Homo sapiens: one gene and its partner. The protein of the gene in region 1 interacts with the protein of each later gene in a pairwise test. Each region holds a gene or a part of one and is shown in the gene's direction. Other genes may lie near its edges.

The links.
Region 2: the proteins of EXOC2 (region 1) and ESX1 interact in a two-hybrid assay, tested with the Homo sapiens proteins (one large-scale study listed by BioGRID and IntAct).

What each region holds. Positions count from the first base shown.
Region 1 is NC_000006.12:591,851-595,667, reverse strand, and holds part of EXOC2 (exocyst complex component 2), read left to right. Parts: intron 1-3,080; coding exon 3,081-3,199; intron 3,200-3,817. UniProt on the Homo sapiens protein: Component of the exocyst complex involved in the docking of exocytic vesicles with fusion sites on the plasma membrane.
Region 2 is NC_000023.11:104,251,841-104,256,235, reverse strand, and holds the start of ESX1 (homeobox protein ESX1), read left to right. Parts: upstream 1-1,302; 5' UTR 1,303-1,386; coding exon 1,387-1,468; intron 1,469-1,658; coding exon 1,659-2,082; intron 2,083-3,407; coding exon 3,408-3,453; intron 3,454-4,395. UniProt on the Homo sapiens protein: May coordinately regulate cell cycle progression and transcription during spermatogenesis. Inhibits degradation of polyubiquitinated cyclin A and cyclin B1 and thereby arrests the cell cycle at early M phase. ESXR1-N acts as a transcriptional repressor.

The sequences.
Region 1 (3,817 bases):
TGAGTGTACAAATTCTTTATGTTGTGGGTTACCATCTATATGGATAACTCATGTGCAGTTTTTATGAGTATATAACTTACTGGATATCGTTTAAAAGGTGGTAGTGCCAAAAAAGATTCTTTTAAGGAGCCTTTTAACTACGATTTTTCCTGTCATCTTAAAGGCAAAAGAGCAAAAATATAAACAAGTCAACAATAGTTTATGTATTTGTTAATGATTATTTTATTTACGATGCTTTGAGAAAATACTGAGCAATTGTTACCTTTTTAAATGAAATTTTTAGTCGCTAAGAAATAGAAAAATAAGATCAGAACCAGGTCAAATACCTGTTGGACTTTGAAATTTATGAGCATCAAGTAGGAATAGAGATAGCTTTATCATGAACAAAAATGTATTAGTTTTCTTACATAATCCAGATTATGCATAGTAGAGGGGAAAATCAGATTACCACTATATTGTCTTACTGTTCACAATTTTTTCTAATATCATTCACTATTTTATCTAATTTAAACCTTCCCTATTCTTCTCCCTCTCCTTATTTCTATCTTGATGTTGGCAGGAAGCAAAGCTCTGCATATTCCTTTCCACAGCAGTGTGATCTTATCCCTGGTAGCTGTGAGAAGATCATGTCAGAATATGACTAAAAACTTCCTTTATTCTTAAATTTTAAAATACTGAGCCTGTGTTAATCATAATTAACATTCTTTACATTGCTTTTGAATCTAAAAAGCCTTTTTAAAGTGTTCTTAATATGCAGTTTTAAAAGAAATGGCGATAACATGTATCATTCTAAACAGAGTTTTGAAATGTAACTACTTATTTTTAGCTGCATACTGAAAGGAAACAAGAAACTTATTTGAAGAGCCCAGCACAAGTTGTCATGCTTTTGAACTGAGTCTAGAATTTCTAAAAGAACAACTTTATCTTGCTTTGTAAAACTTTTATAAACTCCTTTACTTTAATACCCGTTAATAAGATGATAGAAAAAGTCTTTTGTTATTAGGTTTTGCAAGGACACAGTCAACATTTTAAAGAGACGTATAATGTAAAAAGCCACTAAGCAAAGCTTATTGATTCCTCTTGCTGTACTCCTGGAGAAAGAACCCTTGTACGGAACTGTCTACACTCCTATTCAGTAATTTAAACATTAAAAGGAACACCGTCCCTAAAAGAGTATCTCTTTATTTTACTACTAACACCAAATCTGAGGGCTACGTGAGTGAAAGTGTTAGGAGAAAGCGTTGCAGAGGTGTTGGGAGGCAAAACAAGCCTATTTAGGGAGAACGCTGAAATGCATCATCCCCAGCAAGAAAGCATAGAATCACGTTCTTTGGGAAGAAAGACACAGTGTACTATTTGTTATATTTATCGTTCAGGTAATAAAAGAAGAAAGCCTTGTGTGAGAGAAAGAATCAGACTGCATTTTGGAATCTGAAATGAATCCCCTGTGCCAAGCTAAATGTAACTTGTTAGATTGTAGTTTTCTTCTCAGGATACTATTCTCATTTATGAGGAGGAGTGCTGGTGACTTCTTAATCTGAGTAAAGCTCTTCCTTCTAATTGACCTGCCACTTTCTCAGCACAGAGACACATCCTGTTTGCAACCTGTAGGTGGTCACAAGGGGGAGGAGATGGCAGCTCTCAGCCACCTCTGGGCAGCCTGAGTGTGGCCCGTCTGCAGATGCCTGGATATCCGGCTCCCCACAGCACCCAGTCCCTCCCCATCAGCTGGGAATGTCAGTGTTCTCAGCATTTTATTTGTTGCTAACATATTACAAAGTGGATTTGTTTCTCCTCTGATTGGCTGCTGATTGAGATACCTGAGTAACACACACTCACTACTGGAAGAATGGGCTGGAAGCATGGGTGCACCCCTGAGGGATTGAGGTCTGGCCCAAGGTCAGCCTGGAGCCATTGATGATGATTTACCACTGAACAAAAACCTCTAACCCAGAGACAAAGAATGGCATATGGCTTAACAACAGTTTTAAGACAATAAATTCATTTGGACATGCTTTTGGAGTTGATTTAATTGGATTTAGCTTGCTATATTTATATATTTTGTGAGGGCTGAGGGCCAAATCTTAAATAATATTTGACAGAAATTTTTCTATGGAAGTAAATGGTCTCTATGGATTTGGGTGTTTTATAGACAAAGACTTGATATATTTTAAGAATATTTAGAAACTAAGAAAAACACCGAACTATACTATATTTCCTAGAGAAATATTTTCTCAGTCGTGAGTGTGGACTTTAGAGGTGAGTGTTGTCACCAAATCTCTTCACAGTTCGGTTAGCCCTCATTTAGCTAGTTTTAGAAAGCGGTGCCATACTGCCATCTCGTGGCCATATTTCATATCAGAAAGGAATTAAAAAACATCTGAAATTTTAAAAGTATTTGCCCAGTATCTGCTGGCTCCCACCTGTGTCTAATATAATGACTCTGAACTAAGTAGAAAAACTCCTGTGAACTAAATATAAATATAAAGAAAAATGCTCATCAGGTAGATAGGATCACTGCAAATTGTCCTTATCTTTTTACAAAGAGCTGTTTTTAATAGTTTTATCATTTATATGAAAAAATTTTAAAGCTCTGCTGTTTATTTTTTTATTTTTTGTTTGCTTGTTTGTTTGTTTGGAGATGGCGTCTCACTCTGTCGCCCAGGCTGCAGTACAGTGGTGAGATCTCAGCTCATTGCAACCTCTGCCTCTCGGGTTCAAGCGATTCTCCTGCCTCAGCCGCCCGAGTAGCTGAGATTACAGGCTTGCACCAACACACTTGGCTAATTTTTGTATTTTTTTTTAGTAGCGACGGGGTTTCAGCACGTTGGCCAGGCTGGTCTTGAACTGCTGACCTCAGGTGATCCATCCACCTCAGCCTCCCAAAGTGCTGGGATTACAGGCAGGAGCCATCTCACCTAGCCAAGAAATTTGAATATATTTCATTGAGAATTAAATATTAAAGACTAATATTTGACAGGGCACAAGACTAATTGATAAAATTTTAGCCTTTAAAAAGTAATGATTTTAAAATATGCCAGCATTTCCCTTTGGCCTCAACCTTGGACTTGCTTTTTCAGGTACCTGTCTGACCTTCATGCGTCTGGTGACCCTGCTTGGCAATGCATTGGAGCCCAACACAAGTGGATCCTTCAGCTCATGCACAGTTGCAAAGAGGGCTACGTGAAAGATCTGAAAGGCAAGGATTTCTCTTCCAATGTGTTGTGTGATTCCTTCATGTCATTTTGATGCATTCTGGGAATGTTTAATGATGAAGGCACTGACTACCTAATTTACTTGGTATCTCTTATTATTGTCTTTTGCTTGTTTTGTGGTTTTTTTGGCCACTGGTTAGCATTGTACTAATGAAAAGGGACAACTCTTTTATCATGTCTGTTTTTGCGATTGGTGGACAGCGTTGACGTTTCGGGGCAGGCAGCGTGATGCCGAGGAGGTGACATTGGTCTTTGGTAACTATCAGTCTGCACATCGTCTCGTCAGGTGTATGTTGAGTCCTGCTCTGTGCCAGGCACTGCACCCATCGCTAGTAAGACATAGCTGCTGCCTCCCAGAGTTACCGCTAGAGGAAGGAAAAGCCACTAAACATGTAACTAACCAAATAAAATGCTGGGACATGTGATGAAAGAAAAAAAGAAAATCAAGATGTTCCAAAAGGGAGTAACTGAGGAGAATGCTTTAGATGGCTGGTGTGGGAATGTCTCAGAGAAGCCTCCGTATTAGAACTGGAAGGATAAAAGGTAGCTTACTAGCCATCTCAGCTTGAGAAAGGGACCACCTGTGTGGAGGCCCTGAGGGA
Region 2 (4,395 bases), on another chromosome or scaffold:
AAGTCTACAGAGTTATTTTTATAATATTACGGATATTAACACGTCCTGGAGAACCTGCAAACACTTATTGGAGGGAGAACCATACAGCCTTCAATCATAGCCCAGGACTTTTAATGTGATACATCACTATGGAGCAAGAATTCAGGAAGATAGTTCTAGAAAAAGGGAGGGGGAGGAGGAAGAAGGGGTAGTGGGGAAGGCGGGAACTCTCCCAGGTCCACAGCACAAACCCGGGGAATACGCGCGCTTTAGGAGCCTGCAGAACGGGCTTCTGCAAAGCGCGCTGCAATAAGAAGCGCAGGAACCTAGTACAGCAGACGTTTCAAGTGCCGCGCATCAAAAGACGGGGCCCCCGTAGTGTAAGCATTCTTGGATGCACTATGCACTTAGCAGATTTCTATACTTGCACTCTGACATAAGTTCATTACTAAAAAGCTTAAGTCCTTGGAGCTTTCTCAAAAAGCACGTTGGGTTTCTTGCAGCGTGCACCTGAGCAGCGGACTGCTCTTCAAATTCAGCCCCAAATTCCCGCTCCCGGAATGCACGGTGGGTTCTGAATTCAAAAATCCAGAGCAAGCAGCCTTCTAGCCAATCATTGCACCTTATCACTATCCTGACTTTGGCGCGAACTGTACAGAACTAGATAGTCCTATCCATTTGTCACTAATTTCTAGCAGGGGAGAGTCGTGCTCAGAACCCAATTGCATGGTAGACTAACAAGTTCACTTTCGCATGTTTGGGCTGCTGAACTTTCCGCGCTTTCCTCAACGCCATCTCTCGGTCTTTTCCGTGGGGGAAGCAAAGGGCATCGCTCCACCCAAGTGCTGCGGGGTAAAGACGGTTGGGCGGAGGAACACTGCCAAAATACCTCTCCACGGGCTGGTGCGAGGTCTCACCCCGCCCCCTCGCCCCCTCGCCCCCTCGCCCCCTCGTCTCCTCGCCCCCAAATCGGCTTTCACAACCCAGCCGCTTTTTCCAATCTGGGTCTCTGCTCAAGTTGGGAGTAGTTAGTTAAGCAGCAATTTGGGGCCACTGTTCCCCGCAAAGCATGTTCACTACCTGCACCATGCTTGCGCACGCTCGCCCTATTTTTCGTACGCCCTGGACACGAATGCGTCCCCCGGGGGTCGCACTCACAACTAGATGTACTGTGAATGCTAATAGGGGGCGTTTAACCGACGCGTGTGCATACGCTTTGAACCTGCGGAAGGCACCGTACCGCTATATAGGGCGCGCAAGTGCCAGACGGCGCCAGAAAGAGGTCCCGGCGCCAGAAAAGCGCTCGCCCGAGCCATTGGTCCCAGAGCCAGTTCCAACCCCGGGATCGCCGCGGAACCACGCACAGAGTCTGCAGAAGTGCACAGCTTTATCGACAGCGCTTGAAGCATGGAGTCTCTTCGCGGGTACACCCACAGTGATATTGGCTACCGCAGCCTGGCAGTCGGCGAGGACATCGAGGAAGTGAATGGTTAGTGCTTGGACAGGGACGGGAGCTTTCGCGAACTCCAAAAGAGGAATTTTTCCCTGGGAGAGGCAAGCGGAGGAGACGCTGCGCGGCTGTCGCAGTTGCTCTTCCATAGCGGGTCCCCTGCCTCCTCCAGCCCACGCGCCGTGGGCTCCAACGCCCTGGTGTCTCTTTTGCTTTCCTCCCTTCCCAGATGAGAAACTTACCGTGACCTCGCTGATGGCAAGGGGAGGAGAGGACGAGGAGAATACACGGTCCAAACCTGAGTACGGAACAGAAGCGGAAAACAACGTTGGCACGGAAGGGTCCGTCCCCTCGGACGACCAAGACCGTGAGGGTGGCGGCGGCCACGAGCCGGAGCAACAGCAGGAGGAGCCGCCCCTGACCAAGCCGGAGCAACAGCAGGAGGAGCCGCCCCTGCTCGAGCTGAAGCAAGAGCAGGAGGAGCCGCCCCAGACGACCGTGGAGGGGCCACAGCCGGCGGAGGGGCCACAAACCGCTGAGGGACCACAGCCCCCAGAGAGGAAACGCCGCCGCCGCACCGCGTTCACGCAGTTTCAGCTGCAGGAGCTAGAGAACTTTTTCGATGAATCTCAATATCCCGACGTTGTGGCGCGGTAAGTGGCTTGCCCCGGAGGCGCCCAGTTCATCCCGGGACCCTTTCACCGGAGCTAAAAGCCACGTAGGGGGCTCACGGGCGCTGCCTCCGCCCTTGGTTTTTGGGGGACGTGGTGGGCGGGGCGCGGAGGATGTAAAAGACTGGGGCGGGACTAGGGTAAAGCGAGTGAGGCAGGGTGGGATCCCGCCTTTATTTAAAATTTTGGCAATTTGCTCACCATGGGTTGTTTTTGCATTAATTTTGATACGTTTTAATATTGCATTAAAATATTATTTGTCTTGATTATCGAGTTTTTTAGCGCCATTTACATTGTGCGCGCGTGGCGAGCGCCTCACTCTTTTCGCCCTAGTAACCGCCCTGCCACGTGGAGCGCACTTTTACAACCAGGGGGCGGACTTTTGAGCTTTCGGTAGCCAGCGACCCCTTTCCTTCGCTAGCCTCATCGGAGCCCTCCTCATACCGACCCGTAGTGTACGAAGGGGCAGGCCTTTTCTGGCCAGGCTGGAATGGGGGGCGGGGGGCACCTGGACAGGTCAGAGTAGGGTTAAGGGGACCTTTCTGGCTTCGTTGTACTTAGCCTTCGCCCGGCAAAGAGCAAAAAAGAATTTCCCTAGGGCGCGCTTGGCCGATGTGGTTTGGAGTTCCCTCCCTGAGAGTTCACCTCTCCTTTTTACGATAAACAGAAATACTGTGGTTCAATACAGCGCTTTAAAGGTGTTTTGGCATTTAATTTTTTTTTGTTTTTTTTTTCACGGACGGACTTCCCAAGGAAAGATTTCCAGGGTTGTTCTCTGCTGTTTCACAAACAGAAGAATTGAGTCATATTCAGCTAACAAACCATCGGGCGCTTTTACATATGTTTCCTTTTTCTATCTTATTTAACAGCGAAGTTGTTAATGGGAAAAACCTCCCTAAAGCGAGTCCCAACCGTATTACAGAAAACTGCACTGGGAGGTGGGGGAGAGAAATAATGTACATTCATATATATATATATATATGTTTTTTTTTTGAGACTCACTCTGTCGCCCAGGCTGGAGAGCGGTGGCGCGATCTCTTCTCGCTGCAGCCTCCACCTCCCGGGTTCAAACGATTTTCCTGCCTCAGCCTCCCGAGTAGCTGGGATTACAGGCATGTGCCACCATGCCCGGCTAATTTTTGTATTTTTAGTAGAGACAGGGTTTCACCATGCTGGCCAGGCTTGTCTCCAACTCCTGACCTCAGCAACCTCTTCGGCCTCCCAAAGTGCTGAGCCGAGCCACGTTCATATTATTGCATTTTATCCACAACTCCAAATACTGAATATTTGTAATTTTCTCCCCTAAGAGAGAGACTTGCAGCACGCCTGAATTTGACTGAAGACAGAGTGCAGGTCAGTAAATCTTGAAAAAGCAATTTGGCAGGACAGCCATTCTAAAGCATGCTTTAGGTTTTGTCCTGGACATTCTCAAGCTGGTGTTTTCTGTTGTCTTTTCCATGGTTGACAAATAAGTTTTGAACAGTAGGGGCTTTAGTGGTAGAAAATAGGATGTGTAAACTTCAGATTATGGAAATTGCTCATAAACAGAGGAAATATGATTTCCTAAAGGAAAAAAAGATGTGTTTTCATCTTCCTTCTATATCTGTATCTGTCTTTCTCTCCATATAGTGTATGCACATGTATATGTACATATACACATTTACGTACACATATATGCACATGTATACACATACATACATACATATATCCCAATAAATAAGATTAACCTTCTTCTAACACTGGTATCCTCTAGGGAGAATGTTAGTTTTCCCTAAAGGATTACTTCTATATGGAGTCATGTTCGGGGCTCAGTCTCACCTCGGAAGTATTCAAATTAATGCACAGAATAGCTCAGTTTTATAAGAAGGTTCACTGTACTAAATTATTTAAAATATTTAAAACCTAGCACAAGCACTTAGCTAAATGAGTGAATTTATATTTAGGCATTGGAGTGAAGGAGTAATTCACACACAGAACACAGTACTAAAGTAGGGAGTGGCAGCCCTAAATTTTAATTTTTTGGGAAGATTTTGATGTCAGCCTGAAAACATTGCTAACATATTTCAATTAAGTGGTAATGGGGAAAACATTTGTAAGCTTTGGAAAACTGTCTTTAAAAAATGAAACAAAAAAAGAAAGAAGAATTTGAATAAAATTCCCTTACCTAAGAAGGGTGGAAAGATTAGAGAAGAATTGTATACAGTCAAACACATGCATTGCAGATGTCACACAAATTCAACTTTATGAAACTACCAAATGCATAAGAGAATGTTCGCTTTTTTGTAAACACCTTAG